Linked DNA regions of Homo sapiens: regions 1, 2 and 3 are each linked to region 4. The links come from fine-mapping of genetic effects on gene expression. A gene starts in region 4. Each other region holds a variant in brackets. All regions are shown on one strand. Distances are between the middles of the regions. Region 1 has its middle 270 kb from the start of LINC01985. Region 2 overlaps TGFBR2 (transforming growth factor beta receptor 2). Region 3 has its middle 280 kb from the start of LINC01985. Region 4 holds the start of TGFBR2 (transforming growth factor beta receptor 2).

The links. PIP is the estimated chance that this variant, and not a neighbour inherited with it, causes the effect.
Region 1: its variant is the best candidate, but not a certain one, in a credible set for the expression of TGFBR2 in fibroblasts (GTEx, PIP 0.52).
Region 2: its variant is the best candidate, but not a certain one, in a credible set for the expression of TGFBR2 in whole blood (TOPMed, PIP 0.67).
Region 3: its variant is the best candidate, but not a certain one, in a credible set for the expression of TGFBR2 in lung (TOPMed, PIP 0.52).

What each region holds. Positions count from the first base shown.
Region 1 is chr3:30,249,334-30,257,443 of GRCh38, reverse strand. No RefSeq gene overlaps it. Among named protein-coding and RNA genes, the nearest start is that of LINC01985, 270 kb to the left of the region's middle. The variant C/T (reference allele first, on the strand shown) is at 3,505.
Region 2 is chr3:30,646,678-30,654,787 of GRCh38, reverse strand. TGFBR2 (transforming growth factor beta receptor 2) reads right to left here. Exons shown (of 7, transcript NM_003242.6): 3 at 4,328-4,518. Among named protein-coding and RNA genes, the nearest start is that of TGFBR2, 44 kb to the right of the region's middle. The variant G/A (reference allele first, on the strand shown) is at 3,829.
Region 3 is chr3:30,232,153-30,240,262 of GRCh38, reverse strand. No RefSeq gene overlaps it. Among named protein-coding and RNA genes, the nearest start is that of LINC01985, 280 kb to the left of the region's middle. The variant C/T (reference allele first, on the strand shown) is at 3,296.
Region 4 is chr3:30,603,481-30,611,576 of GRCh38, reverse strand. TGFBR2 (transforming growth factor beta receptor 2) reads right to left here and starts at 4,976. Exons shown (of 7, transcript NM_003242.6): 1 at 4,600-4,976. The coding sequence starts at 4,693. It overlaps LOC105377015 (translation initiation factor IF-2-like), which reads left to right and starts at 4,653. Exons shown (of 2, transcript XM_047449400.1): 1 at 4,653-5,431; 2 at 6,019-7,178. The coding sequence starts at 4,653. The coding sequence ends at 5,093. RefSeq lists a silencer at 4,803-4,902.

The DNA of each region.
Region 1 (8,110 bases), 350 kb after region 4:
TGTACACTGCTGAGAGTATTTGGAAACTTTCTGGTGTTCATATTCCTTCCAGAAAATGATAGAATTTAGGGAGGTTACAACACTCGATTTGTGAAAATAATTCCTTCTATCCAAAACAGAGGTTCCTAATTGTTTTAAGGACATGCTTTGACTTGTATGGAGAAAGATCTACAGAAAGCTTTCACTCTGACAGGGAAGACATCTCTGTCATCATCATTTATCCATAAGTCTTATTTTCATGTATCAAAACAAATACCCATAGCATGATTTCAGGCTTCCATGGCCAGCCAAATAAGGTCATCTCTACCTGTTCATCAGTGTCCAAGTTCCTTCAAGGAAGTACAAACCCATTCTGTTATCACAGATTATGCTAAACACAAATATCCCTGGAAAAAGCAGCAAAATGGCATGTTACAGACTGAGCATTTGTGAAATAAAAAAATATCGTGGCTTTTGAGTTCAGTAGACCTGAGTTTGCTATCTGAGTAAGCAAGTTTCTTTCAACTTCTCTCAGCCTCTTTAAGATAAGTCTAATAAAAATTACCTCATGGACCATTGCAAAGATCAAATGAGATAACATTTCTAAATCACTTAGCTGTTGGAATATAGTAAATGTAATAGCTGTAGCTATTATTATTTCTAGTTACTTTCCAGAGAGTCATTTGCAGTGAAACATAAGGCTTCTGGATTCCTGTGAGATACATGGAATCTTCTGGGGGTGGTGAGGATAGCACGTAAAGAGAAAGATAGCAGTAGGAAGAGACAGTCTTGTGAAAATAGTTCACATTCCAGGGACACTCATGGTGAGCCCTACTGTGTATGATCCTCACTTTGATTGAGGGCATTTTCTAAGTGTGCACACTTGATCCTCCTTACAGAGCTTCTAAAAATGACTCAGGGATACTAATCTGTTTGAAAAGTGGAAAGTCCATCTTGCTCAGCTTTGAATTGACATTTTTCAGAATAGTAAGAAATAAGAAGACTTATTTTAAACCTAGATTATTTCAAAGGAAAATAGAATGAGTAGGCCTTAGAAAAGATGGTAGGAGGATCCAAGAATTTTTTATAACTTATAAAAGTAATTGTGCTGTTCTTTCCTGCAGCCTAGGAGGTTCATTAAATAAAGTGCTTAATAAACGTTCATTAATGAAATGCTGATGGTTGTCTCAAGGTTTTATTCAATGATCAATGATGTGAGGTGCTAAATTTTGGTGTGCCTGAGTCTTATTATAAAGTATCTTTCCAAGACATACCAGAGCCCAACAAACATATGAAAAAAAAATGCTCAAAATCACCAATCATCAGAGAGATGCAAATCAAAACCACAGTGAGATATCATCTCACACCAGTCAGAATAGCTATTATTAAAAAGTCAAAAAATAGCAGATGATGGTAAAGTTGCAGAGAAAAGGAAACACTTATACACTGTTGATGGGAATGCAAATTAATTCAGCCCCTGTGGAAAGCAATTTGGAAATTTCCCAAAGAACTAAAAATAGAATTACCATTTGACCCAGCAATCTCATTACTGGGTATATACCCAAATGAAAATAAATTTTTTTTAACTTTTATTTTAGGGTTGGGAGTACATGTGAAAGTTTGTTACACAGGTAAATACGTGTCGTGGGGGTTTGTTGTACGTATTATTTCATCATCCAAGTATTAAGCCCAGTAACCAGCAGTTATCTTTTCTACTCCTCTCCATTCTTCAGCCCTCCCCCTCAAGTAGACCCCAGTGTTCAGTTTCCTTCTTCGTGTTTATAAGTTCCTTATCATTTAGTTCCCACTTGTAAGTGAGGACCTGCAGTATTTGGTTTTCTGCTCCTGCATTAGTTTTCTAAGGATAATAGCATCCAGCTCCATCCCTGTTCCCACAAAAGACAGGATCTCATTCATTTTATGGATGCATAATATTCCATGATGTATGTGTATCAAGTTTTCTTTATCCAATCTGTCATTGATGGGTGTTTATGTTGATTTCACATCTTTGCTATTGTGTATGGTGCTGCAGTGAATATTCATATGCATGTGTCCTTATGGTAGAATGATTTATATTCATCTGGGTATATACCCAGTAATGGGGTTACTCTACCAACAAGACATTTTCACTCATATGTTCATCACAGCACTATCCACAATAGCAAAGACATGGTACCAACTCAGGTACTCACCAATAGTAGATATGATAAAGAAAATGTGGTACATATACACCATGGAATACTATGCAGCCGTAAAAAAGAACAAAATCATGATCATGTCCTTTGCAGCAATATGGATGCAGGTGGAGGCCATTATCCTCAGTCAATTAACACAGAAACAGAAAATTAAAAACTGTATGTTCTTAATTATAAGTGGGAGCCAAACATTGAGAACACATGGACACAAAGACGGGAACAATAGAGACTGGGGACTGCAAAAGCAGGGAAGGAGGTTAAGATTGAAAAACTACCTATCGGATAGTATGTTTGCTACTTGGGCAATGGTATCATTAGAAGCCAAACCTCAGCATTATGCAACATAGCAAACCTGCATGTTACCTCATGAATCTAAAATAAAAAACAAAATTTTAAAAAAGTTTTTTCTAGATATATACACAGGCAAATATCTCTCACTTCAGCTTTCTTCAGCAGAAATGTCCTTTCAAAATTTGGCTAAAATGCAAGTACTCCCTAAAGAACAACACTTTAGGAATTTGTGGTTACTTACTTGATTATTTTCATGGAAGCGTCTGCTAATGGCATGTTGGAACTCAGAACAAAATAACTTTTTATCAGTAGATAGGGAAAGACTAAATTAGTGAACATGTAACCCTAATTATGAGCATTTCCTCTGAATGCTAAGAAGGGCAAAATTTTTAAAAAAGAAGAAATCTGTAGGCACCTGGACAAGTTGCTTCTGAAACTTTAGCTGCATCAGAACTACCTGAAGGATTTGTTAAAATATAGGTTCCTAGGTACCACCGCCAGAGACTCTGATTCGGTAGGTGTGGGATGGGAGCCAAGGATTTGTATTTCTAAAATGTTCACATGTGATGCTGCTGTTATGAGGACCATACTTTGAATGGCAATAACGAAGCATGTTGTGGGTTGCATATAAGTGTAGGGACTAGAGGAGTCATGTGGGAAGATGAGGAGGACTTCCAAACACTGAAGAATGTATCTGGAGCTCGACTTCAATAGAATGTGGGGAAAGATTTATAAATCCAACAGAATTAGAGATGGATGCTCTCCAGACTTTGCATATGCCATATCTCTCACTAGGAACATCCTTAGGTCTTTAACCATCTGCTGAAGCCCAATTATCTTTTAAAGGTATCTTTTAAACAATTGTTCCCTGACCAGCCAAGGCTGAGTCACTGCCATTTTTCAGCACACTACCATAGCACTCTAATTGGACCTTCATTAACACATTCCACACTGACCTGTAATCTCTTGTTTGCACCTCTTTCTCCCTAATCATGAGTGCAGCAAGCTTGCAGCATGTCATAGTTATCTTTGTATCTAT[C/T]GCACCTGGTGTCATGCCTTTTATGTAACTGACATGCAGTAAATGATTATGGGATTAGTGAAAGCAAACTGGGGACTAATTTAGATTTACTTTAAAGAAGTAATAAATTATCTGCTCTATTTTACTGCGAAACTGTTCAGAATCATCTGTACCTGTGCCTCTACTTTCCTCCCATTCTATATTGAACCAACTTCAGTTAGTTCAAGTGGCTGGAAGTTGGCCTAACTTTACTTAAGCTTTCATCTCCATCTCTCCATCTTTAAATGTCCCCAAAGATGTTCAATTTGCTTAATCTAATACTTTAATTTGGATTAAATAAAATTATTTAATTTGAATTAAATAATTTAACCAAGCAGTTGCATTTGAAGTTTTGATTCCATTGGCTTTTTAATTGAATCTTTCCTTGAATTACCTCTCTGCGTACATATTCCTAATAGTTTTTTGCTCTTTGGCTACACATTCTCAATATTTTTTTGGCTGATTTTTTTTTCTTCTCTTTGACAGCTTAATGTTGGGGTGTTCCAAGGCTCTGTCCTTGGACCTCTTCATTTTTCTGTCCACAATCATTGGTGATCATCTCCAATCTCAAGGCTTGAATGCCATTGGTACCATGATGACTCTATTGCACCTGTAGCCTCAATCTCTCTAATGAATCCTGGATATAATTCTCCACTTGGATAACTAATCTAACTCATTCAATGGCTATTTTAACTTATTGAAGGCACATTAAATTTAACTTTATCAAAATTGAACCCGCCTGATCTCTAATACCCCTATACTAGTTCCTCCCATAGACTTATGTTAGTAAATGTCAGTCTATTCTTCCAGTGGATCATGCCTGCAACTTCAGTATAAGCTTTGCCTCTTCATTTTGTGTTACATGACACCTTAAGCAAATCTCTTCTCTATCTCTGAAATGTATTCAAAATGCATCCACTTCCTACCAACTTCACTATGTCTATTCAGGTGCATCACCTGTCACCTGGAATATTATAACAGCGTCATGACTGATCTTTTGCTACAGCCTTGCCCTAGATAGTTTAACATAAACTCTGCAGTATATACTCAACAAAGTAATACAAGTTTTAAATGACTGACTTTTAAGATTTCTTGTTCTTATATCACTGTTCTGCTCAAAACACTTCAATGGCTTCAAATCTCAGAGTAAAACCCACAATCCTTACAATGGCCTGTCTCTGACCTACTCTCCTACCACTCCCAGCCTTGCTCACTGTGCTCTGGCCACCTCAGCCTTCTAAATGTTCTGCACACCAAGTGCATTCTTGCCCTAGGGCTTGTACTTGCTGCCTCTTCTGCATGGAAAGCTCTTTCTACAGACATGCCCATTTCCTTTTGCTCAGATATTAGCTTGTCACAAAGATCCCAACAACTCTGTCTAATACACTTCCCATTAGCTCTCTTTCCCTGTATACTGCTGTATTGTTCTTCATAGTACCTGATATATAGTTATTTTTTGTTTGTTTTTTCCTATCTCTTCCAACTAGAACAAAACTTTCCAAAGAAAGTTATCCAGTTTGTTCACTACTTTATCTCCAGTGCCTAAAGTAGTGCCAGACATATGAATGTGAGTAGATGAGCAAAAGTAACACATGTGGTGAAAATTGGCTAGAGATGCACAAAAGCCATTTCTTCTTTGTAGGACTATGGTTAATTTAACATTCACCAGCACCTTAAGTCTAGGTAGTAACCATGACAGGTTTTCACCAATGGGAGGGGTGTATTTTACCATTTAATTTTATTGAGACCATATTTTAAACATGATGAAGCTGTACAAAGGAGCCTGTGTCCTTAAGCTGCCATGTGGAAGACAGCTCACTGAACCCCATTGGCTGAGATGTGAGCAAGAAAAACACCTCAAGTTGTATTAAGTCACTAAGAATTGAGGATCACTTGTTATAGCAGTTAGCCTTTCCTAACCTTGAAAATCCTATTAAAGCTAAAAGTATTTAGATTAAAACTAATCTAATGTGAAAATACTGGGAAGCTCAGAAAGATTATGTATGTGATTTCTCTAAGGAAAGGCTGCCACATAAAATACAGAATGCTCAGTTAAAATTTAATTTTAGTTAAACAATGAATAATTTCTAGTATAATATTGCATGGGACATACATATACTAAAACAGTATTCATTGTTTATCTGAAATAAAAATATAATTGTGCATCCCATATTTTTATTTGCTAAATCTGACAACTTTAGTCTAATGAGATATGTAACACAATCAGAACTTGAGTCTAATTTCAATTACCAATCCAACTTTCTTCCCACTAGTCTACCCTAAAAATTGCCAATGCAAATGTGTCAGGAGGCAAAAACTCATAAATTTATATTTTCTATCTCTCATTTACAAAGAAACCTAACAACATTCAGAAACCTTGAGAAGCCATTCTTCTAGTTCTTTCTCCCCAGAGAGAGAACACAGGTTTGAATACAGGATATGGCCTACGGGTATATCTAATTTTGTGTTCCAGACAGCTCAGCTTCAGTATTAATATCCAACAACTTATAACCAGTAGAAGTAATTAAAACTACATAGTCCCGGTGATAATATGACAGGGTCAATTTAAAGGTTAGCTTTGAAATTTAAAAATGCCGTAAAAAATTTACTTGTTCTTGCTGCTCATTTCCCGCCAGAAATCACAAACCTCAATGAAGCTTTGGTAATCATCTCCCTGGCAACTAGTCACCACCTTCATCATGGAATGAGGACTGTGAAATTTCCGAGAAAAGCTCCAGAATTTAAATAGGCCTTGCTTTCAAACTAATAAAAAAAGATGGAAAAAAAATTGTAAAATGCAAACAAGTACATATGAATATAAACTGGAAACTGATTCAGCTTTCAAAATATTTTCTACTTTTACGAGGTCATAATGACAAGAACTAATGGATTGCTTCATGAAATTCAAGCATTCTAAGTTTTATTTTATAGCAGCCTGCACTCAACAATGACAATTTTAATTCATTAAAAGTAAAAGTATAAAAATATGACGCATAAATTTATAGTCAGATAAATAGAAATTTGAGACGACCAAAAAATTGTTGCTAGAAAATTCATTGCTTATTACATAACTTTTCACATATATATTTACAATGTAAATGTTGTAAATGTTTTTGCTTTCTGTTTTAAAGGATTTAAAAAGTATTGGGTTGTGCTTTAGGCCAGAGGTTGGCAAACTACAGTCCATGGGCGAAATCTTGTCTACCACATGTTTTTAAAAATAAAGTTCAATTGTGCCTTCTCTATGACTGCTTTTGCTCTTTAATGGTAGAGCTGGTAGTTGTAACAGAAACCACAGGATCCACAAAGTGTAAAATATTTACTATCTTGCTCTTTGGAAAAGAAGTTTGCCAAACTCTGCTTTAGAGTTTAAATTATTCTAATCTGCTGCAGGACACTGTCTTCTTTAGAGCACTTTACTTCAACATTAAGGCTTGAACGGGGAGTACATGTAAAAGATGTGACAAAATGCCCCCAAAAGTTGTTCTGAACCTAATAAAATTACAGAAATAAGATGACACAATCAAGTCCTATTATGAACTCTTGAGCTAAAATGGGAAAAGAACTTTTCTAACTGAAATTCTGAAAATGGAATCAATATGAAAGATGTGGGACCCATCAAGGGAGGCTGGATAGAGACAAGAGGGACAAATGGAGAAACAGAGCACTAAGAGTTGTAATGAAACTGGCTCTTCTGTGTATAGTTCATTCAGTGGAAAGTTCAGATGAGAGAGGCTGAGCCCTCCAACTGGGGGAAGGATCTACCCCATCAATGCTATGGGATGAACGATTGTTCTTGGCCCTACAATTAGCTGGTGGCAAGGCCAATTCCCCAATTGTCACATTTTCTCCACATCACCCACAGATGGGTAATATGCTTCATCAACAACTAAGAAACAGCCTTAATTAGATACCATTCTCTAAGGGGTAGCTGTGTATTTTTTTCTTATATTGGGCATAAAATTATTGACCCAAACTCTAATGGTGTCTATTTGTTTACAGAGTTTGAAGGAAGCCTTTTACTCAAGGACTAAAAGTAACAATAAGAAGGATGAAGTGAGACTAGCTAGATCTATCTGTACATAGTGTGAAGTTGGGTAGTCCTAGACCTTTAACTTAAATGTGCAATAGGTGCTATGTGGAAGAAGGACCTCACACATAATCTATAGATATCATTCTTGGTCATGACTACAACCCCCTCCTAAGGGCTGAAAATATCAAACCAGGATCTCCAGCCTAGTCCTTTCTCTCCAGTTCTAGATTCTTAGATCTTCCTTGTATTAGTTGAGCTTTTTGGGAAGCAGGCACCAAGATGGAGTTAGAAATAGGAGAATTAGGAGAAATAGTCAGAATTAGGAGAAATGCCATGAAATCCAAAGGGGGAAAGAAGCAGAATTAGGCAGAGAGCACCTTCAGTCCATAGGTCTGAGACCTGTGAAAGGGAGGGGGAAGAACACAGAGTTTTCGCTAGGAAAGGCCCCATACTGCAGCAAAGCTCTGAGAAAGTCCCAGCCAACCCAATGGGAAGCTCCAGTGCAAAGATTGCCTATAGAGGATTCCCACATTGGACAGATGTGGGCCTAGTACT
Region 2 (8,110 bases), 43 kb before region 4:
GTGGGGATGTCATTGGCAAGTAAACAGCATGGCTATTTGCTCAGGATTCCTTCCTCTCCTACCTCCTGTGCTGCTGCCTTCAGTCCTGGTGCCCATCAGGTCTCGTCTGACTGACAGCTGTCACCAGGCCATCCATCATGACCAATCCAAACAACTTCTCTTCTAATTGGAATTTTATATGTTGGTTAGTACAGGGATAGACTCTGATTTCCTTAGAATTCTACACAAAATGTTCTGGCAGGAGGGAATCTTCAGAGACTGGGAGGGAAGCATGAATGTGAGAGAACAGTTGTGCAGTGCAGACCCCAGCCCCATTCTAGTTGTTTCTTGACCCCTGCCTGCCCTTGGTCACTGTAGGGAGGCAGGGGAACTGGCACTAGGCCCCACTGAGGGATTCCAGGGTTAAGGGTAGGTACCCGGTTCAAAGAAAAAAACAGCAAGGTTTCTTTAACTCTTTCATTCTAAAAACCATGATCTCAGTCCTCTGAGGAAAGGGCATCTATGACACCAGTGTCTGATGTCAAGATGTTACCGTGTTCCTCTGCCTCTACAGACAACCAAGCCTCATTTACAACAACAACAAAAGGAACAAATGTTAAATCTCTGCACCATTTTGTCTAGATGTTTGAATTTGTCTAGCATTTGAATTTTTTATCATATGCATATATTATCTCTTTGGAAACATACAGAGATATAAAGAGAAAGAAGGAAATAAAAAGAGGAAAAAAGGAAAGAATTAAAAAAGGAAAAAAGGAAAACCTTCACAGGTTTTAGTGCCTTACATATCCCATTATAAATCCTAGCTTTGATACCCACTAGTTGTTTGATTGTAGACAAAGTGTTAAATTTCTCTAAGCCTGGTTTTCTCATGCATAAACAGGGATCCTAACAGTGCCTACTCGCATGGGGTGGCTATAAGATTAAATGAGGTCATGCTTGGAAAGGGCTGAGCTCCCTGCACAGCGACAGTATGTTTTCTCTGAATATTAACTATCATTAATAGTAGCACTAGAAATAAAGATCCATACTTAAAATCTTGTGGCTCAACTTTTTTTTCTTACATATTAAAAAAGGTAGATGTACATAATTATCATCCATTGTGTAGCTGCAGATCAGGAACTTGCCAACAAGAGTACTGTACTACTAATAATACAGCCACAATGCACTTCATAGCTTTTGTGTTCACCACCTTGTTGGACTTGGAGTAGACAAATCAACATTAAGAGTTTTCATTCTGGCCGGGTGTGGTGGCTCATGCCTGTAATCCTAGCACTTTGGGAGGCTGAGGCAGGTGGATCATCTGAGGTCAAGAGTTTGAGACCAGCCTGATCAACATGGTGAAACCCCGTCTCTACTAAAAACATAAAAATTAGCCGGGCATGGTGGCAGATGCCTGTAATCCCAGCTACTTGAGAGGCTGAGGCAGGAGAATTGCTTGAATCCAGGAGGCAGAGGTTGCAGTGAGCCGAGACTGCACCATTGCACTCCAGCCCGGGTGACAGAGTGAGACTCTGTCTCAAAAAAAAAAAAAAAAAAAGTTTTCATTCCTCAAGATAAAGAAGAGATGGTGGCAATAAGGGGAGAAATGGAATATAAAATGTTGCTCCTAATGTCTGCTGTTTTAGGTGGAAGAAATATCCCACCACACAGAAAAGAGATGCTTAAAAAGCAAACACCCCCTACCTTCTGGAGCATTTTAGAAGACTCTGAAATCACCCAGACATTTGAGTCGTCAGCTGTGAAAGGCTTCCTGTACTGTACAGTGAGAAATTGTCTTTATGCTTATTATCTCACTTCATAAGAAAGTCTGAGAATAAATAAGAGGAAAAATATGAGGGATGCCCATGATGATCACTTGAGTTGAAAGACTCTGAAAATGGAAGTCATTAGTATCTGAAAGGCTCATAGTAAAATATAAAATGCATGATATATTTTGACAAAGATATTCAATGATAAAATATAGATCCAACTTGCAGGCCATTTATCAACTTTTGTCCTTTTGGAGGAAATAAACTTGTCTACTGTAGACAAGCTGGTATACAGAAGGAGAGAAAAGTTTCTTCAATGCTAGTAAACATGCCTGGGTATTCTACTGTCAGAGATTAATTCCTTTGGCTTAGCCTAGGCCTTCTTTTAAAAGGTGATCTACTTGAAGAAAGCTGACCTGGTAAGTCAGAATATCAGGTGTTACCATGTTTCATGTGATTAAACTATTTAGATTTCCCTCCTAACTCAAATCACATAAAGAACATGAGGCCAAGCACAGTGGTTCATGCCTGTAATTCTAGCACTTTGGGAGGCCAAGGCAGGTTATTCACCTGAGGTCAGGAGTTCGAGACCAGACTGACGAACATGGTGAAACTCGTCTCTACTAAAAATACAAAGATTAGCTGGGTATGGTGGCACACTCCTGCAGTCCCACCTACTCAGGAGGCTGAGGCAGGAGGATCACTTGAACCTGGGAGGCAGAGGTTGCAGTGAGCCAAGATCGTGCCATTGCACTCCAGCCTGGGCGACAGAGTGAGACTCCGTCAAAAAAAAAAAAAAAAAAAAAACAACCAGAAAAGAAAACGAGAGAAATGGACCATTTACAGGATGAGGATGAGAACATAGGAAGGAAGAGTAATCTGGAAAGCGTTGCCCTGACAAGATGTGCATGCCTGCCTTCAGTTCACTGAGAAGTTGGCCTGGGGGATGTTGGACAGGAAGATAGGGAGAATGGCAGTAGGTGAAGGACACAGGAAGAGAACAAGCTGGATCTGCAGTGCTACTGAGCACCAAACACGAAACACGAGGACACATAGCTTCTCGCAGGTGGAATGCACATGGCCGCAGAGATAGGGTGTAGAGCCAGCATTTGTATTTCAAAAAGATTTTTTAATTAAATCAGACCTATTGTTGACTAAACTAACATTTACACTACCACGCTGGTAAAATTAAAAGACTTATCCATTCCCAGTGTTGGAGAAGGTACACGGAAATCCATATGCTTACATCCTTTTCAGGAGGAGAATAGTTTAGTAGTGCTTATTCAAATTTAAAATACACATATTTCTAATCTAGAAATTTCACTTCTGGCAATCTGCCTTGCAGAAATATTAGCACAAATGCATGAGATATTTTTACAAAGATATTCAATGTAGCATTAAGTGGAAAAACTGAAGACAATCCATCAACAGGGACATGATAAGATCCATCGTGGGAGATAATATGAAATTCGAGACTAAATTAAAAGATGTACAGTATATCTATGTGTTCTATCTTGTTTAGAAGGAATTGTAAAAGTGGTTGGGTATAAAAAAGTGTTGCAAAATAATATTTATAGTATGATCAGATAGTTGTACTGAAAGATGGATGAGTGGATGGAAGGATGGACAGATGGATGAAAGGAGGGAAAGAGAAAGGAAGACAGGGAGAGATTGGGAGAGAGGATGGAGTGGGAGATAATATGAATGAATGATAGAGACGTGTGTGCATCTAATACATTGTCAATACAGATGATCTGTTGCATTGGGAGTGAGGGGAGGACGAAAATGTACTTTCATTTTTAATTTTCACACACTGTTGGATTGTTTGAAATTTTTGATGACGAGCATATACTACTTTTGTAATTAAAAACCACTGAATTCTCTTCTTATTAAAAATTGAGGGAATAGTGTATGCCTTCCTTTCAAGCTGAGTAAACGCTGAACTTCAAAGATGGAGGCTAGTATCTAATCTACTCTTCTCCTGGCTCTAGGGGTAAACTTTGGCTTATTATTTCCTCTCTGTATTGCAATGTTTCTCTCAAATGGGATCGATGACAAGTACCCTAAAGACAAATCCTGG[G/A]ACTATGTACAAGAAACAACATCAGTTATAAAGAAAGTCCTCCTCCAAGATTAAACAACCCCATCCAAATCTTTAGAACAATAGTTACCAAATTTTAGCTGCACAGAATTACTGGGAGGGCTTGTTAAAATACAGATAGCTGGGGTTCACCCTCTATGTTTCTCATTTAGTGGGGCCTGAGAATCTGCATTTATAACAGGTTCCCAGGTGATACTGATGCTGGCTGCTCAAGAGGCCGCACTTTGAGAAACACTGCTCTAGGTGAAAGAAACTATTTGTCAAAGACAAATAATAATGTTTGCCCCAGTCAACCATATTTGATGAGAACCAGAACAAACCCTGCTACTCCCCAAGCCCCTCTTTCCACCAGCTGAATGAGCTCCTAATCCACTGTATGCAATCCACCACAGGAGGAATGTGCTCTATGACACTGCAGACCAAGGATACAAAAAATTGGCACAGATCTCAGGTCCCACACCCTTAAGAGAAGAAAACTCACCTTCTGAGAAGATGATGTTGTCATTGCACTCATCAGAGCTACAGGAACACATGAAGAAAGTCTCACCAGGCTTTTTTTTTTCCTTCATAATGCACTTTGGAGAAGCAGCATCTTCCAGAATAAAGTCATGGTAGGGGAGCTTGGGGTCATGGCAAACTGTCTCTAGTGTTATGTTCTCGTCATTCTTTCTCCTAGAGTGAAGAGATTCATTGGAAGCGAGGGGAGAGGGAGAGAGAGAAAGAGAATAAATGAATAATATGGCCTCCAGACAGAAAGGCAATCTGGAATACTTTTCCTTCATGAAGTTGTTCCTAACAACGGCAGCTGGTTCCTGTTCTCCAGCATTCGCAGGCTGTCCTATAGTCTCCTATGCTTTTCTACTCTTTTCTGTTTTTCCTTTGTTTATTCTTGGAACCCATTTGTGATTATAAACATCACCTGGAGCAGACAGCGTTCCACGGGGCAGTCCTGGTGGAGAACTTTACATATTTAAGTCTTAATTAAATCATTAAAGGGGAAGACATGGAAAAAAAGAACATTCCTAGGTACTCAGGATAATTTTAAATCTTCCATCCTGAATGTAATGCAAACCTCACATCACACCCCTAGTTTAAGTGGCAAAATCTGTCCTGTCTAGCTATACTGTTTTCAAAGAGCATGCCTGGGGAAATAGTCACAGTTCCTCTTTTTTTTGTTTGCTGGGCCCCAGAGCATTGCGTGTAAAGGGTATACTCCTTGTCAACAGCTGGTTCTGCTGAGAAAAACGGGAAGAAACATCGCAGATAAAGAACTGCAGTCTTTCCCAAATTACAGAAAGGAGCAATTCAGAAAAAACAAACAAACAAAAAAAACAAATAAATAAAAGAAATGGAAAGGGATGTCAGGGTGTTCTTCATTTACAGTTCAATGAAATATTTTATGCTGTCATAAACTAACTACTTTGACAGTATCACTTCATAGCACATATTTGAAGACTAATTTAGCCCAGGGCTCAGAGAATTTCTCACATAGCATTTTCCTTGGGCCCTAGGAAATGCTCAATTGGCCGTCAGTGTACATTAGATTTTTAAACAACATGATTAATGCCCACTATTATAATTGAACAAAAGAACATTTTGGCTCTCTTGGAAAAGGGTATCACCTCTCTATCTACCTCCCTCTGCTCCCTCATGAACATACTATCTTGGATGACTGTCCAACAAGGCTAGTCTGACATCCACCCTTTCACCTCTGTCCTTTTTAGATGCAAAATACCTGTTGTCTTGAATCGCATTCTCTCTGTCTAGAGAGGGAGCGGAAGGAAGGGCTAATCTGGTCCAGTCAGTTTTGCTAGAGTAATCTTCTATGAAGATTCTGAGTGCACACATGAGCCAATGCATGCATGTACTCACTCACCAATTTTCCCCTAATCCTCCCTGCCCCATGCACAAAGGCTCACTGCTCACAGCAAGGAAAACGGAAGGCAGGCTAGAAGCAAGAAGCAGCTAAGACACAGCTTGCACCTATAAAAGATGCGGGGCCATCCCCATGAGAGAAAGAGCAACTTTGACCAATACCACTTTTTTAGTGCTTAAGTCAAGGACATTAAAGGACAATATGTTGACAAAGGGATAAGGGCAAGGGTATGGGTTAGGACAATCCAGGCAGGAATGGTGCCAGTGTCAACATCCATGCAGCCCAGAGTTGACTCCAGTGGAGGTACATGTGTCTGCTTGTGAAGGGGCTCAAGGGTTCTTAAACTAGAATTCCGAAAGACACAAGAGGAGCAAGGCTTTGCTAAGTTGGTCCCTGCTGTGACAGGAAGAGTGACAAGCAGAATAATTGGTTGAGGGTGGCTATCAGGACACCAAATGAAACTAAATGAAAGTTGGCATGATCATACAACAAATGATGTATAATTTGGAAATCTACCCATCTTTAACCCCAAAGCTACTTGGCAGTCTTCAAATCAGCTGTAGTCATGGAACAAGAACACCTTCCTCCCTGCCCCCACAGTTTTGTGTGTGTGTGTGTGTGTGTGTGTGTGTGTGTGTGTGTGTGTAGGTTGTTTTTGGTTTGGGTAATAAAACGAAGGTATGCTGTGCCCACAGAAAGGCATGGTCTCTTTTCCTTGTGACGCTTATAGAGGCCTAAGAAGGAACTGTGAGCCATGAAAGAAAGCTGCTCTATAATTATTGGGCAGCTCTTCCAGAGCCTCCGGTTTTCTACCTCTTAGCTACTGAGAGAACTAACATCACAGAGAGAAAACAACTGTAATACTTGAGACCTGGTAAAGCCCTTAACTGCTTTCTCCACTCACTCCTGTAACAGCCAGGCACAGCTAACTTTTCAAACTCTTTTTGGATATAGCTGAGCATAGGAAAGGTAAATACAAAGAAGTAAATACGGACTTCTTTTTTTGTCCTGCAACATTTGCTCTGAGCCACTGAAGAGGTTGTCAATTTCCACTGAAAGAAGAACCAACATGATAAAATTAATTTTGGAGGCTGGGCACGGTGGCTCATGCCTGTAATCTAAGCACTTTCAGAGGCCGAGGCAGGCGGATCACAAGGTCAGGAGTTCGAGACCAGCCTGGCCAACACAGTGAAACCCCATCTCTACTAAAAATACAAAAAATTAGCCACGTGATGGTGGTGTGCACCTGTAATCACAGCTACTCAGGAAGCTGAAGCAGGAGAATCGCACGAACCCGGGAGGCAGAGGTTGCAGTGAGCCCAGATCACGCCATTGCACTCCAGCCTGGGCAACAGTGGGAGACTCCCTCTCAATTTAAAAATAATAATAATAATAATTTTGGTTATAAAATATTTCTATCCTTGGAGGCAGCTTAAGCATTTTATATGGAATGGGCACACAACTGACATTAGTTAAATGAATGAATGAATGAATGAATGAATGAAAAAACACTAAAACTGATTAAAAAAACAACAACACTGAAATCTACAATCATAGTAGAGCCTTTCAGTTTCCACACTGGCTATTTTTACAATAGCCTCCTGTCTTAGTTTAGGTTTCCTGGAAACAGACCTTGAGGCTGTGAGAGTTCTGTGCAGGAGGTTTTTGGAGATGCATCTGTAAGCGACTAAAGGCAACAGTATTGCACAGAAGGAAAAAGCTAAACTATAATGCAGGTTGCAGCAAAGGCCTCAGTGAATGCCTTGGAAACTCTGAAAATGGGATGTCCTTCAAAGATGTACCACATTATGGCAAAATAACCAGGAATTTGTTTCTCTGCATCAACTAGCCATGGGATGATGGCTACCCATGAAAAGTGTCCAACGTGAATGAGGCAGCTCCCATCACTGGAGGGAAGGCTCAGCAGTGATCCTTCAACAGCCAACACTCCCAGGGAATGAGTGCCTTGGTCATGAAGGAGGATCAAGGAGGGCACTATAGCGTACCCTATACTTCCCCTTCTCATTATCAACACCCCTGGCTTCACGGGAGAATTTTCTTTGGCCAGCACAGGTCAAAATAATGTTCATTGTATTTACCCTTTATAGCTGGGACACAGAAAAGACAGGGAGGCCTCCTCTCTTCGACATGCTCACATTTTTTTGAGGCTAGCAAAGCCTCTATTCTAGAGAGACTTGATTCACATTTAATGATTTGGGCTTGTATTACTGGTCAGGAAAACAAAAATCTTAATTAAAAGAGCCTTTTTGGGTTGCAAAAGCAAGTGCTCACACCACCGTAGATATTTAAGAAACCACGGAAGGAAGCTTTGAGGCCATCTAGTCTGGTGTCTCAATCTTTCCTGCATTCTATTTGACATATGGTCAT
Region 3 (8,110 bases), 370 kb after region 4:
AGAACTGTCACTATTTCATCTGCCTAGCAGCTCATTGAAAAATCCCAGTTCTCAGGGTTTGTCTTTATTTGACCTGACTCAGAACTTGCTCTATGCCAACAGTGCTATCCATGAGGCATTTTTCAAAAATAATCAATGACAATTTGTTTAATATCAAAGCTGCCTGAGGAGGCATAGTCTCGGGAATATATTAAAGCTAACAAATGAATGAGAAAAAAAAGAAAAGAAGAAAAAATTAGAAATGAACCCTCTATAATGACCTTTGAAAAGCTGTGACACATTTCTGGGAATCTAAAAGGCATGCCCATAAACAGGGCCATATAATTGAAAGACATGAGAAGATTCAAATCTCTCACTTTGGCTGAACTTGAGGCTCTGAACAAGCACAGAATAAAGGCCTAAGTAAAGTTGTAAACAGCCTTCCTGAGCATTGAAGCATTCCCCAATACATATCCTCAAATCACTTGACAAAGGTTAGGAGACATTTGTTCAAAGCATTTAACTAAATGTTGGTCCAATTATTAATCAGCCAACTAAAAAGCTAACTGAGCAGTTACTTCAGTGGCCACACACTACAAAAAATACAGACATCACAGCATTAGTCCAGAGAAAGAATATTAAACAAATATCAACAACTACAACAATAAAAAACAACAAACCCTGGGGAGGGGAACATCTTCTTTTTAGAGTTGCCACATTACACTACTTAAAATATCCCTTATTCAACAACAACAAAAAAATCACAAGACATGCAAAGAAACATGAAACCATGGCCCATACACAGGAAAAGAAGTAATTAATAGAAACCATCCTCGAGAAAGCCCAGACATTTTTAAACCTAAAAATTATGTTTAAAGAACTAAAGAAAGTGTCTAAAGAACTGAAAGGATGTATAAAAACATTTTACCAAATGGAAAATATTCGTAAAGATTTAAGAATCATAAAATAGAACCAAATAAAAATTCTGAAGCTAAATAGTAAAACAACTGAAATAAAAAAACTCACTAGATGAGATTAGTGATTCACTGGCAGAGTTTGAAGTGGTGAAATAAAAAATCAGTCTAGGAAAAAGGAAGAAAAAAATAATAAGAAAAAATTCACAGAGCCTATGAGACCCTGGGACACGATTAAAGCAGCTTATGCATAATAGAAATTGCAGAAGGAAAGGAAAAAGAGAAAGAAGTAAAAGACCTCTACAATGAAAAGCATTAAACACTGATGAAATAAACTGAAGAGGCCACAAGAAATGAAAAGATATTCCATGTTCCTGGATTGGAAGAATCAATATTGTTAAAATGTTCATACTACCCAGTAATCTACAAATTCAATGCAATCCCTATCAAAATACCAATGACATCCTTCACGGAAATAGAAAAAAAAATCCTACAATGTATAGGGAACCACTAAAGCACAGAATAGCCAAAGCTCTCTTAAGTTAAAAAAAAAAAAGAAAGAAAAGAAGAGAAAAACAACTGGAGGAATTATATTACCTGAGTTCAAATTATACTACAGAGCTATAATAAGCCAAACAGCATGATACTTGCATAAAAACAGAACCATAGACCAATGAAGCAAAATAGAGAACCCAGAAGCAAATCCACACACCTACAGTGAACTCATTTTTAACAAAGACAACAAGAACATACACTGAGGAAAAGATATTTTCTTCAACAATTGGTGCTGGGAAAACTGAATATTCATATTCAGAAGAATAAAACTAGACCCCTATCTCTCACCGTATACAAAAATCCAATCAAAATGAATTAAGGATTTAAATTTAAGTCCTCAAATTATGAAACTACTAAAAGAAAACATTGGGGAATCTTCCCAGGACACTGGAATGGGCAAATATTTTTTGAGTAATATCTCACAAGCACAGGCAAACAGAGCAAAAATAGACAAATAGGATCACATCAAATTAAAAGCCTCTGTACAGCAAAGGAAACAATCAACAAAGTGAAGAAATAACCCACAGAATGGGAGAAAATGTTTTCAAACTACCCATCTGACAAGAGATTAATAATCTGAATACATAAGATGCTCAAAAAAACTATAGGAAAAAAAATCTAATAATTCAATTAAGAACTAGGCAAAAGATATGAGTAAATATTTTTCAAAAGAAGGCGTACAAATGGCAAACAGGTATATGAAATGGTGCTCAACATCACTGACCATGAAAGAAATGCAGATGAAAACTACAATAAAATATCATCTCATCCCAGTTAAAAATGGCTTTTTTTCAAAAGACAGGCAATAACAAATACTAGTGAGGATGTAGAGAAAAGGGAACCTTGTCCACTGTTGGTGGGAATGTAAATTAGTACAACCACTTTGGAGAAGAGTTTGTAGGTTTCTCAAAAAACTAAGAGTACAGTCACCATATGATCTAGTAATCCCACTGCTAGGTATATACCCAAAAGAAAATAAATCAGTATATCCAAGAGATATCAGCACTCTCGTGTTTATTGTAGCACTGTTCACAATAGCCAAGATTTTGAAGCAACCTAAGTATTCATCAGCAGATGAATGGATAAAGAATATATGATACATGCACATAATGGAGTACTATTCAGCCATAAAAAGAATGAAATTCTGTCATATGCAATGACACAGATGGAAATGGAGGTCATTAGGTTAAGTGAAATCAACCGGACAGAGAAAGACAGACATTGCATGTTCCCACTTATTTGTGGGATCTAAAAATTAAAACAATTGAATTCATGGACATAGAGCATAGAAGAATTGTTACCAGGGACTGGGAAGGGGTGGAGATGGGGATGGTTAATGGGTACAAAACAATAGTTAGAAAGAATGAATAAAATCTCTTATTTGATAGCACAACAGCGGGACTATAGTAAAAAGGATTTAATTATATATTTTAAAATAACTAAAAAGGTATAATTGGATTGTTTGTAACACAAAGGATTAATGCTTAAGGAAATCACTACCTAATTTTCTGTGATATGTGGTTATTACTCACTGCATGCCTGTACCAAAATATCTCATGTACCCCATAATTATGTACTATGTACTCACAAAAATTAAAAAGAAAAAATTTTAAAGAAAAATACCAAATACGTAAGTAATATAAATTAGTATTACATTAGCATTGTTCATGTAATAGTTGCTGCTGTGTTGTTGAGCTAAATTGCTCCCCTTCCTACATGGGCAGAATACCATCTTATAAAGTGCAGAGTTTTTTATATGAGCATGCCCACATTATGTTGCATGCACGTTGTATCTTGAAAAGTCCAGTTCTTCCATCTAGTTGTCTATGTTAACTGCTCGGAAACAG[C/T]GGCTCTCAATCCTTACTGCGCGTTAGAGTCATTTGTGGAGTTTTAAAATATATTCTTGCTTGGGTCCTTCTTCCAGGGATGGCCATGGGTGGGACTGTGTGGCACTGGTATGTTGTAAAAGCTCCCTGGTGACTCTAATATGTAATCAGGGTAGAGATTCTATTCTACGACATCTTTGTTCTTAAACCCCATGAAGCTCTTTTGTCTTTATTTGGCCTTTATTTGGCCCAAACTCATCATTGCCTTTGTTCTTTAGTTCTCAGCTAAGGAATATTAAGGTCATATCTTTTGGCTCCTATGCTATTAAAAGCATAAAATCAAATGTGGGCACTAAAATCAAGTGTCTATATTCAGTTCAAGGTGGTCAGTCATATTCAAATTATAATTTTATAAAATTTTTTTTGATTATAATGAAAATGAAAATATAATATTAAAATAAAAATTCAATGGAAATTTTAGGGCCAGACTGTAAGTATTTTAAACTTTTCCTGCTATATACTCTCTACTTCAACTATTCAACCCCACCACTGCAGTGCAAAAGCAGCCATAGGTAACATGTTAAAATGAATGGGCATAGCTATATTCCAATTAAGTTTTATTAACAAAAGCAGGCCATGTTTCATACAATCCTGACCTAGGTTATTCCCTTAACTGCTGTGTAGTATTCCACTGTATAAATATAGCACAGTTTATTTATTCGTTCTCACAGTGGGAGAAATTTAAGTTGGTTCCAACTTAACATTAGCGGAAACAATGCTGCAATGACCATCCTTTCCTGTCTCCTGTGTGCATCTGCCAGAATTTCTAAAATGTGTACACATGCTAATAGCTAAATTTTATTAGGTATTATTAACAGCGTTTGGCTATGATTAACATTTATACTGAGCTTATTTTATTCCAAGCATTATACTAAGTCCTCTGTGAACTCTTTTAATACTCATGACAGAGAGTATTCTAGAGAAAAGAGGCTGAGACTGAGTCTCAGAGAGGCTAATTTGCCTAGGAACACAGATCTATTAGGTGACAGACTCAAGACTCAAACTAAGACATCATTTCTCCTGAGTTCATGTTCCTAGTCCTTACAATCTACTCTTTGGAGCAGAGAAATTTCTGGTAAATAATTAGATGTATCTTTAAAATTATTGGATAGTATCCCCTTTATCTTCCAGTGTAGTTGTTATAGTTTACACTTCTACTAGAGTTGTTTGAAAGTTCTCATTTCTCCACATCCTTGCCAATACTTGGTATTTGTCAGCTATTTTGATTTTTACTAGTATAATAAGAGTTAAATGTATTACAATTTATTAAAAATTATATAGTGCTAATTTCTAGTAAAATTGAACATTTTTCTTATGTTTATTAGCAAATAACTCTGAGATTGCTTATTTATGTCCTCTGCCTGCTTTTCTTGGACTCTTACTGGTTTATAGGGATTTTTTGTATATTTCAGATACCAAAATTGTATTATATGTTGCAAGTGTCTTGACCAAACTATTGCTTGTCATTAAAGTTTTCATAATATACTTCAGTTTTTATAATATAATATACTTTTTATAATATACTTCGAAGTTTTTATAATATACTTTTTATAATCTAATATCCTATTTAATTTGTCCATGGATTTTCTTAAATATTTTAATGACCTTATTTACTTCTAAAAACTCTATTGGATTCTTTTATTTTTCAAATAACCTATTCATTTTTCTTATTGTTCAATCATTTCTTTATTTTTACATACCTTCTTTTAATCTCTTTTTGCATTTTGGACATTTATTTTATACCTCTTTCTGATAATTTAAACATTTTTATCATTTACATATGGTTTACTTACATAGTTTAAATATATATGTACAAATACATAGCGTGTATACTATATTGAATATACATTATTATATGTGTGTGTGTGTGTATATATATATACTATATGAATACAGAATCTCTTCTAAAATTTACAGATAACAAATAATGTCATGGACTAGAGCAAGAGTATATCTACTCTGCCCACTACCAAGATGTAGGCTTAGAAATTGTGTGTAGTGGGTCACACTAGATGTTTTCAAAAATGGATTTAAGAAAGGATTTTTAGACTCAAGCTTCTTAGTAAACAAAAACCTTATTAATTTCAGAAAAGAACTCCATGAATCCTGGTTGCATGCTTCAGATCAACGGGGAAGAAAAAAGTAAAAATTACTTCAGAACAGTCTACTTTTATAATATCTTCAATGAAACAAAAGTTATATAGCCTTGAACTTTTAAAATTTTATTTGAACACATGTTATGAGGACAAGGTGGTAGCAGCTTGCTTCTTCTATCTGCTTTTGATCCATTTCTGGCATCTGTCATGAATATAACTCTCAGTCACAACTGATTGAAGCATTAGTATTATGGAGTGAGTTCATAGATCACAAACAATAAAAAGCTATTTCTAATGGTGCTTGGTGATAATTTTGTTAAGAGATATTCAAAGGTTGCTATTAAGACTTGTTTATTTTAAATTGTGAAATAAATGAGCACATTTCCCAGAAGTCTTTAAATATTAACAATGAGAATGCTTTGGTGGTTTTAAATTATCTTCTGCTTGACAGTGCCAAAGCTACTTCCTGAACATCACATCAGATAATTCCTGACCCCAGGGTTCACCCGTTTATACTAAAATTATCAAGTCTTACAACTTAAAGAAACATGAATAAATGTTAAATTCAGCGCACTTACTCTAAAGAATTCCTTCCTAAAATGGGAATATTTCCAGTCAATTATGTGTAGCTAAAATGAGTAGTGGCTGTTAGAGAAAGACCTTTCAAATATTTTTCTTTCTGATATCTTGATTCATTCATCAAATATTTATTGCATGCATACCACATGCCAAGCTCTATATTTGTTTGTTTATTTTGCCTTATTTATCTAAAATTAATCAACTGAGAAGGTGAAATGTTTGTCCCACCATCAGCTTGCTTTACCTTTTTCATGAGGCTGTTATTGTACTGCTTGTTTATGATAATTTTAATTTTAGTCTGTTTTTGTTGTTCAACCAAGACCATTAATTGGTTTGGAATACAAAATCAAAATGAAAATGAGATTTTAAAAATTCTAAGTAAATAAATGTGAAACATAAATAACTACAAACACACCCTTTCTGTAAATATTCCTATAACATCAGGCAATGTTTGGAAAACAGATCTGATGAAGAAAATGAAGGATTTACAGATTATCCATCTGCCTCAGCCCAACCTTTTAATGGTTCAGAACAAAGAAACCCCCAAAGGGGTTGGGAGTGGGGCTTGGGCACTTAATAGCCTACTGGGGTGGAAGAACATCAGCCTCCTTGCACCTTCCTTCATCATGTACTTGAGGAAGGATTGTATGGAGCCAGCTCATGGAGCCCTCACCCACCTTCCAGCAAGACCAAGTTAAAACACATCCCATAATTTCCTACATTAGCCTCTTAGAACAAACGTTCTTAACCTGGGGCCCTTGGACTGAATTCAGCAGTGTTTAACTTGGTTGGAAAGAAAATGACATCTAATTTTTACTAATCTCAAACTCATACTTAGTACACCTTTTAATTATGAATGCAGCAACAAGGCACAGTAGTATTGACAGAATATGACTTTGTCATAGATATTTTTATATAACATTATAGTTGTTGCAGGCATTTCCAAATATAGTTGACACCTATCATTACTTCAGAATTATAGGAGCATTAGCCTTGCTTCTAGAGATTGTCATTCAATGCCTGAATAAAAAAGCACATATACAACTATATCTCACATTTCCTTTTCTTACTTACCATTTTGTTACCTGCATCTAAGTATAACTGGTTGCCTTTATCATATGTAAAATATAATAATGATGATGATGATACTAAGAGCTTCGAGTTTAGAAGGAGACAAAAACCAAAAACATATGATTAAAAAAAAGTCTAAAAGAAAAAGACCACTTGAGTTTTTGCCCCAAAAGCCCTCCATGTGCCCCTCAAATGGACTTGCACAGGAATCACCTGGAATATCTTGTTAAAATGCCTAGTTTGAGTCAGCAGGCCTGGGGTGACAGACACTAATTAGCATTGCTAAGCTCCCAGGTGAAACTGATCTGCTGGTCCATGGATGATACTAAGCAGTAGTGGTAAGAGTGTAAGTCTTACAATTTATGGCCTCATCTTTCAGAATGTTTCTTTTTGTTTTTTCCTTTCTCCCACCTAGTACTGAGTTACACATAGTATTTGTAAAAGCTGACACAAGTTGATATGGTTTAGCTGTGTCCCCATCCAAATCTCATCTTGAATTGTAGTTCCCATAATCCCCATGTGTCATGGGAGGGACCGAGTGGTGGGTAATTTAATCAGCAGGCGTTTACCCTTATGCTGTGCTTGTGATGATGAGTGAGTTCTCAGAAGGTCTGATGGTTTTATATGGGGCTTTTCCCCTCTTGCACTTTCTTCTCTCTCCTGCCACGATGTGATGAAGGACATATTTGCTTCCCCTTCCACCTTGATTGTGTTTCCTGAGGCCTCCGCAGCCTTGCAGAATGGTAAGTTAATTAAACCTCTTTCCATTATAAATTACTCAGGCTCGGTTATGTCCTTACAGCAGTGTGCAAACGGACTAAACCACAAGTTTACGTCACAAATTTTTGAAATGGTGTTTTCTGGCTGGCTGGCCAGATTACAAGCATTGTGTCATGAACAGAACAGCAAATATCTCTAAGAAGCTTGAAAGCAAAATGATGCACCACTAGTCCAAATAATTAACATGAGTGTTGATAGCACCCTCTTTTAATCAAGTTGGTCTGATGGGTTTTCCTGGTGCAAGATTTCA
Region 4 (8,096 bases):
TCAGTATCTACTGGATAATTCCTCTGGTGACTTTATTTAAAATTTTGCAGTGGCTTTCAAGGCCCTACACTGATTCAAAATTTATGGCTAAAGGAATTGCATGAAAACTTCTAGCAGCTTTCCATCATGTTTGTCAGAAGTTGAAACATCTTTTTCCATATTTCATGAGAATACAAGAACCAATTCCATACTTCAAAAACAGTCAAATTACTTATTGTGATCAGAACTAAAACTATTCTAACTGAAAGTAAAGATTTTACTATTTGGACCAAACACCTAACAAACAGTGACTGCTTAGTTAAATGCTCGACCTCAGTTGCATTAGATACAGTAGGATGAAGTGGAGGCTCAGCTCAGCACTTCCTGGGTGCTAAATGATGTGTCAGGCACTGCCAGAGATCCCAGAGATAGAAAACTGAATAAGATTGAGAGGATTAAAGGTATAATGGGCAAGAGAGTTACGTAAAGATATGACTTTGGCTTGGTATTGTTACCAGCTAAGTGAGAGGTCTGTATCTCATAGGAGACATTTACCTCAAACTGGGACATTCAAAGCAGGTTTCCTCAAGAAGATGACACTTGAACTACGTCTTAAAAGATGAGTGAAAATTAGCCAGGTAGCAGGAGTTCCAGACATCCTGAACAAAGGAACAGCTGCCTAAATTGCTCACATTGTGTGTATGTGTAGTGACACAAATAGACTGGGAAAATGTGGGCTGTGGTGGGATGTGAAGCAGCAGAGTCAAATGGGAACCAGGTCAGAGGCCCCTGGTAAGCCCAATTAAGGAGTTAATAGTAATAACAGAAGCTGATATTTATTGAGCATTTACTATGTTGCAGGCACCATGTTAAATACTTTAAAACAATATTTTATTTAATCCTCACCATAACTCCATAATCCTCATTTTACAAATGAGACCAGGGATGACTAGTAGGTAAAGCAACTACAACAGGCTACACAGCCAGTACATGGCAAGTGGGTCTGGAACCCAGGACGGCCTGATTCCAAAGTTTATACCCTACACTCTTCTACCACCAGCCTATCCTCAAAGAGAGCACTAAATGAACGCATTGGGTCCATCATGCTGGCTATGGAATGGAGAATGCAATTAAAGGCTGCCCAACTGGGGCTCCGTGACAAGGCAGGGATAGGAAAGAGACAACAAATTGATTCAAAAATACATTCAATGGGACCTAGAAGGAAACATTCAACATGCACATCCTCCTAGTGCATACAACAACAAAAAAAAATGAGGCTTTTGAAAATGAGGTGTAGAAAATAAAACACCAGTATTCCATAATGCTTTCAAATATAAACAGTTAAAACACGTATCCTTTTCTTTACTTATAACATGCTCCCAGCTGTTAAATTCAATGGCAAAGACCAGGTCTGTCTTATTCATCTGAGATGGTATCCCAGGTCTGAGCATCCTGCCTGGCAAGAGATACTCAATAAATATGGTTGAAAAGGTAGAAGAAAAAATGCCCAGTTTTTGCAATGATATCAGAGGTGCCTTATTGATCCAGAGTTAAAAACTAACCTTACTGAAAAAATTAAAAAGTCATGTTCATAACTGAGTAGAAAACATGTAGTAGTTATGTTGACTACATAGACAACAGTCATCATTAGGGAATGCTACATTGAAAAGAAGGCAATGAGTTCAAAATGTGATTAGTATTTTGTATAAATCATAACTCATTAAAAATAAGATGTTGAGTGGCCTAAAGGTGGAAATGTGTTTTTATGAGGCGGAAAAAAAGCACGAGTAGACTGAAGATCAGATTTGGGGCCTAATGATGTCTAGTCTCTTACCCTGACAAAATAAGCAGGTTATTAAAGTGATGTGAAGAACCTGATCACTATGACACTTTTACAAATTCTTTGTCCTCAATAAGAATCTATCTACTTCCAGGAACCTGAAAAGTCATATTTTTCAGACCTGAAGAGTTATTGTGCACTTTACAGTTTTCCCCAAAAGAGTCATTTCTTAATTTTGATCATTTAGGAAGAGTGAATCTATTAAGTCAAAAACGAAGAAAAAAAAACTTTCTATTTCTTAGTGAAATTTGTTCTTTTATTTAAATCCTTTGCATACTACTAAACAGAAGTACAGAAGCTACTAAACAGAAGACAGATTTTTGGGCCTTTTTAGGTGACGTAAAAGGAGCTTGTTGTTTATTAAACAATCTCATTACCTGATATATTATCTTGCATTAAGATATTTTGAAAAAATGTTTTCAGTTTACCAATTACGTTAGAGAAATTCTGAAACTATTTACTTACATGAAAAATTAAAATGTAAGTAGAATTAGGTTTCTCGTCTTCAATATATCTGTCTTCAACCATTGGCCAACTTTGAAAATTTAATTTGAATCAAATGAATACAAATTCAAAATGATTCATTAATTCAACCATTTTGAAACTTCAGTTCTATAAAAATATGAAATCTGTGGGCCTTGTAAAACTGTCTAAATACCCAAATAAAAAGCCACCACGTTTTTAAGCTAATTGTTTAAAAGTGTGTATATTGATGAAATGAAAGTGACTCGTGAACTATTGGGTCTGGAATTTGCAAATCATAAACCTTATCCTTGTAAACAGAACCTAACTAACAACATCAGGGCCTGCTAATTTCCTTCTTTTATAATCTGGAACAAAAGTTGTAATGATTTTTAACATCCACAGAAAATTAAGGGTGCCATTTTAAATATTTATTAGCAAAATGTCACTTAGGTTTTAAAAGTCTGGAGGAAAATGAGAGACAATTGAACATTCTGGTACTGCAATGCAGGAAAAACGCCAAGAACGAAACACTAAGATTTTATTAAAACCATAGGACTCAAATGTGTGTCAAGACTTTTTGCTTGCAATAGTGCCTCTTCCTAATTTGATTAAAAGCTTCCATCTCCATGCCACCTTCAATGTATGCCATAATTTTTAAAAAGTTCCCAATCCACTTCAAACACTCTAAAATTTACAACTGACCGTGATGCGCATTTTTTCTAGACAAACCTAAAGGTAAATCTGCCCATGTCCCTGGATAAATAAAATGAGTGCCTCCGGGTGATGTGGACTGTCAACTCCTCTACATTTCATCCAAAGTCTACATGGGTCATCTCCAAGTCACCAGAAGAGCCAGGGGAAAGGAGGGGAGGGGCACGATACGTAAGATGTTAAACATGAAGATGATGTAAAATTACCCAGATTCAAGCTGGCCATTTTACAGATGAGGAAACTAAGGCCCAGAAAAAGCTCTATGACTTGCCCAAATACTCGGTTACCCAGACCACAGCTGCAGATACTGTTATTTGGATCATAGCTGCAAAAAGTCTAACTTTTGGCCGGGCGCGGTGGCTCACGCCTGTAATCCCAGCACTTTGGGAGGCCAAGGTGGGCGGATCACGAGGTCAAGAGATCGAGACCACCCTGGCCAATATGGTGAAACCCCGTCTCTACTAAAAATACAAAAATTAGCTGGGCGTGGTGGCACGCGCCTGTAATCCCAGCTACTCGGGAGGCTAAGGCAGGAGAATCGCTTGAACCCAGAGGCAAAGTTGCAGTGAGCCGAGATTGCGCCACTGCACTCCAGCCTGGTGACAGAGCGAGACTCCGTCTCCAAAAAAAAAAAATCTAACTTTTGAAGTCTCAGAGGTTTTACACTTTCCATAACAAATAGTTAAGAACCCCCATTCCTGCATGCATATATATATTAATATTATATATATTTATATATATAATTATATATATATTTATATATATATAATATATATATATATTTTTTTATTTTTATTTTTTCCTTAAAAACCTTCAGAGACAGCGATCAGGTGGGTAGCCTAGTTAGGATTTTAACCCTTCGGTTTCCAACAAACGATAATTGCATAGAACCATCAACTCCCTGAAGACAGGACTATCTTGTTCCAGGCAAAATCTACAGCCTCTAGCACCCAGTAGGCATTCAGTGAGGGATTCTCGGTTTCACCTGAGCATCTCCACTCCCTATCCATCCATGCCAAGGCGTCAGTGGAGCCAGCTAACTTTCTTTTGGAAATCGATTATTTTCTTGAAACTTGTTTCCAAAAACTCCGGGCCAAGAAGCCGGCCTGAGGGAAAGCGTGGCCGTCTCCAGGAGCTAAGGACTGAGGAGCTGGCCTTTTGAACGGGTGGCTCAGAAAGAGCTGGGTGGGCACGCGGCATCGCCATGGGCGGAGTGGCCCAGGTGCGCTGGCTGCTTTGGCAGCTCAGGCTGCCGCTCCGGGCCGCTGCTCCCCGGCCGCCTTCAGATAACCAACTTCTCAAACTTCCCTTTCCGGGGGTGGGGGCTCGCCTCGAACGCGGCCAACACAACGCCTTTCCTGCTCGCACAAAGGGGACCAAACGTGCCCCGCGCCCCTTGCAACTGAACTTTCCTTCTCTTTTTCAAGAAAAACTCACAATCCCTGCAGCTACGGGAGTCGGGCTGCGTGAGTGTCGCGGGGGAAACTTTCCTCGTTTCCGCCCGGGGGCCGGGTTGCCGGGCCCGACTGTCAAGCGCAGCGGAGAGGCGGGGACCCCAGGAAGACCCCCGGCGCCCCGCCGAGCCCGGGCTGGGGACCACTCACCCGACTTCTGAACGTGCGGTGGGATCGTGCTGGCGATACGCGTCCACAGGACGATGTGCAGCGGCCACAGGCCCCTGAGCAGCCCCCGACCCATGGCAGACCCCGCTGCTCGTCATAGACCGAGCCCCCAGCGCAGCGGACGGCGCCTTCCCGGACCCCTGGCTGCGCCTCCGCGCCGCGCCCTCTCCGGACCCCGCGCCGGGCCGGCAGCGCAGATGTGCGGGCCAGATGTGGCGCCCGCTCGCCAGCCAGGAGGGGGCCTGGAGGCCGGCGAGGCGCGGGGAGGCCCCCGGCGGCCGAGGGAAGCTGCACAGGAGTCCGGCTCCTGTCCCGAGCGGGTGCACGCGCGGGGGTGTCGTCGCTCCGTGCGCGCGAGTGACTCACTCAACTTCAACTCAGCGCTGCGGGGGAAACAGGAAACTCCTCGCCAACAGCTGGGCAGGACCTCTCTCCGCCCGAGAGCCTTCTCCCTCTCCTCGACGTCCAGCCCCTAGCTCTCTCGTAGCTGCCAATCATGTTTCCTAGACCAGCCCCTCCGAGAGCTTTGGCCGACTTTCAGCTGCCCCTCACCGCCCTCCCACACCACTCAGGAGTTCCTCGCTCCAAGTATTTACTCAAGAATGACTAAGTGCACACAGTTCACAAAGTAACAACAGAAAACGTCCACGTTTTCCCTAGTAGATCAGAACATCTGCCGCCTCCCCTCAGCTTTCTTCAGATTGCTCCTAGGTGCTTTAGAGATGCGTTTTCAAATTGCAAGTTGAGATCCAGGAGTGAATACTCCAATCTATTGAGTCGCGAGCACATTTCTTTCCCAAATAAAATAGTAACGGTAAATTCTACTTCATTAAATTTGTGCTTCAGTTGTGTCTATATGCATGTATGTATGTGCATACACTGTCAAGTTGTAAAATGTTTTTCTTTAGGTCGAAGTCTAGAGGTTTTTCTCAAGTTTTAATGTACATATTGATCACCTGGAAATCTTATTTAAAAATGCAGATTCTAATTCAGTAGGTCTAGGAGGCAGGCAGAGATTCTGCATTTCTAATGAGCACCTGGATAGAGCGTCCCATTTTGCACCGCCTCTTCCCGGGACTGAGTCAGTGAGTAATTGTAAATGATCACCTATCACGAAGTGATAGTGGTGGGAAATGTAATTTTCAGAATGTATAGAGTATAGCAGAAACTGTAAAATTAAAAGTGGGTTGGGAGTCACCTGAATGCTTGTGCTTTTATTCCCTTAATGCAGGTGAAGAAAGAGAATACTTACCCTCTCATGTGCAAACGGGGTAACATGGGAGCAGAACAGTATAAACTTTCAAATTTCCTTTCTTGCTAGGGCAACCAGATTTGCCCAAGACATTCCTGGTGTACATGTTTTGTAGTTTAAATATTAATAGAACCCCCTTTCTCTTTCAGATATGTCCTGATTGGATAATAAACTATGTGATCAACCTACTTCCCACTCTCAAAGATATGATTCTGTACAGCCCTCTGGTCAGTAGATCTTCTAGCAATTCATTTAATGAATTCCTTTACCTGAGAGGAAGATTGCAGAGGCAAGGGTTTGTGCCAGGGTCTCCAGGGAATAAAGGTAAATAGCCCTCCCCCAAACCCAACTCCCAAATCTTTCCTGTCATTCTAAGTGTTCATTTGCTTCATCCTGGAATTTTAACTCATGCTCCACCTAGCACCCAAGCTGCCTCTGGATGTTTTGCCACTTCCCAGTACTCATGTTGAAGATGCAGAAAGTGCAGTGAAATCAGGAGGGCTAGGCATCTTCTTTCCCACCAATTAATTGCCTTGCCAAAGCTGGAGTGACTTTGTCAATGGAGGAAGATTGAGTTCCAAATCTTCTCCCTATTCCCTCTTCTGCCACCAGCCCATGCCACTGCCATGGCTTGTGTAGGAGTCTCCCACGAGTCACCCTCAGCCACGGCCGTTCTGGGCTCTTTCACTCAGTTTCTCAAACGAGAGCTGAATTCAGCTTTTCAAAATACAAAACTAGTTATACCAACCCTCTGATTAAAATCATTTAATGGCTTCCCACTGCTCTTGAGATAAAGAGAAGATAAAAACCAGATCCTTGAACGTGTCTTCAAGCCTCCAACTCTCCCGTAAACTTTCATTTGGCTTCTCCTTGCTTACTGAAAGCCTTCTCCAAATTTCGTGAATATGCCTCTGTAATCCTCCTACCCTTTATGCTTAGAGCCTTCCCCAGTGTGGACTTCCTTCCTCTGACCTTTTTTTCTTCACCCAGCCAACTCCTGGTCTTCGTGGATTGAATCATAACTTCTTTGATGGGCAAGCTTTCCCTCACCTCCATGAGTAGATCTTGTATTACACGTTCTCTTGGCACCATATGCTTTTCTTTTAACAGCTGTAACTTTATAATTATTTGTGTCATTCTTTAATTTATATTTCTATCCTCCACTCAACTCCAAATTTCTTGAGGGCAGGTATTATGTATCTTTCCCTCCACTTACTATTGTGTCCCTAAGCATCAAACACATAATCGATGTTTAATAAATATTTGTTGGATGAATGAATGAATCAGGCAATAAAGATTTAGAAGAAAATTGTATTTGATTGTTCTAGTTGCTTCATAACTCTGGAGAAAACATTGTTACCGAATATTTGAGATATAAACAGACTACATTTTAGCCGAGAATGATGTCACCACTACTTCCTTTTCTTAAGAATGGAGAAGTATGTGGGTTTCTTTCTTCTTCTTTTTTTTTTCCTACATTTGCCCAAGTTCCTCCAGATAGCAAACATGTACTTTCTTTCTCCTGAAAACACAATGTGGCAAATAAATGTCCAATAGATTCCAAAAGCTTTGTTTTCCTTAATTATCACAAAGATGTTTTACATTGTTGGAGGCTAGATATTTAAATCTATGGTGGAATGTTTAACTGGTGGTCTTTGCCATGATACATCATTAATGTTGATTTTAATTTTGTTTGCCCTTAACATTTCTGATTTAATCTCCAGTCTCCTGTGAAATTGAGAAGAATCAGAATTCAGCATTGCCAAGTGCAAGCTAGCCTTTTGAAAATCATCATAATAAAAATAATAGATGTGTAAACTCATGCATATTGCAATTTGATAATTTTAAAAATTCATCAGGCTGAGTGCAGTGGTCCACACCTGTAATCCCAGCACTTTGGGAGGTCTAGATGGGAGGATTACTTGAGCCCAGGAGTTCGAGACCAGCCTAAGCAACATAGTGAGATTTCATCTTTACTAAAAAAAAAAAAAAAAAAAAAAAAGCCAGGCATGTTGGCATGTATCTATAGTGCCAACTACTCAGGAGGCTGAGGTGGGAGAATCACTTGAGCCCAGGAGACGAACGCTGCAGTGAGCCATGATTGTGCCACTGCACTTCAGCCTAGAAGACAGAATGAGACCCTGTCTCAAAAACAAAAAATAAATAAAAGAAAAAGAAAAAAAAATTGTCATGATGCCCTTCCTTTTGAAATTCTTGTTGAAAGGGA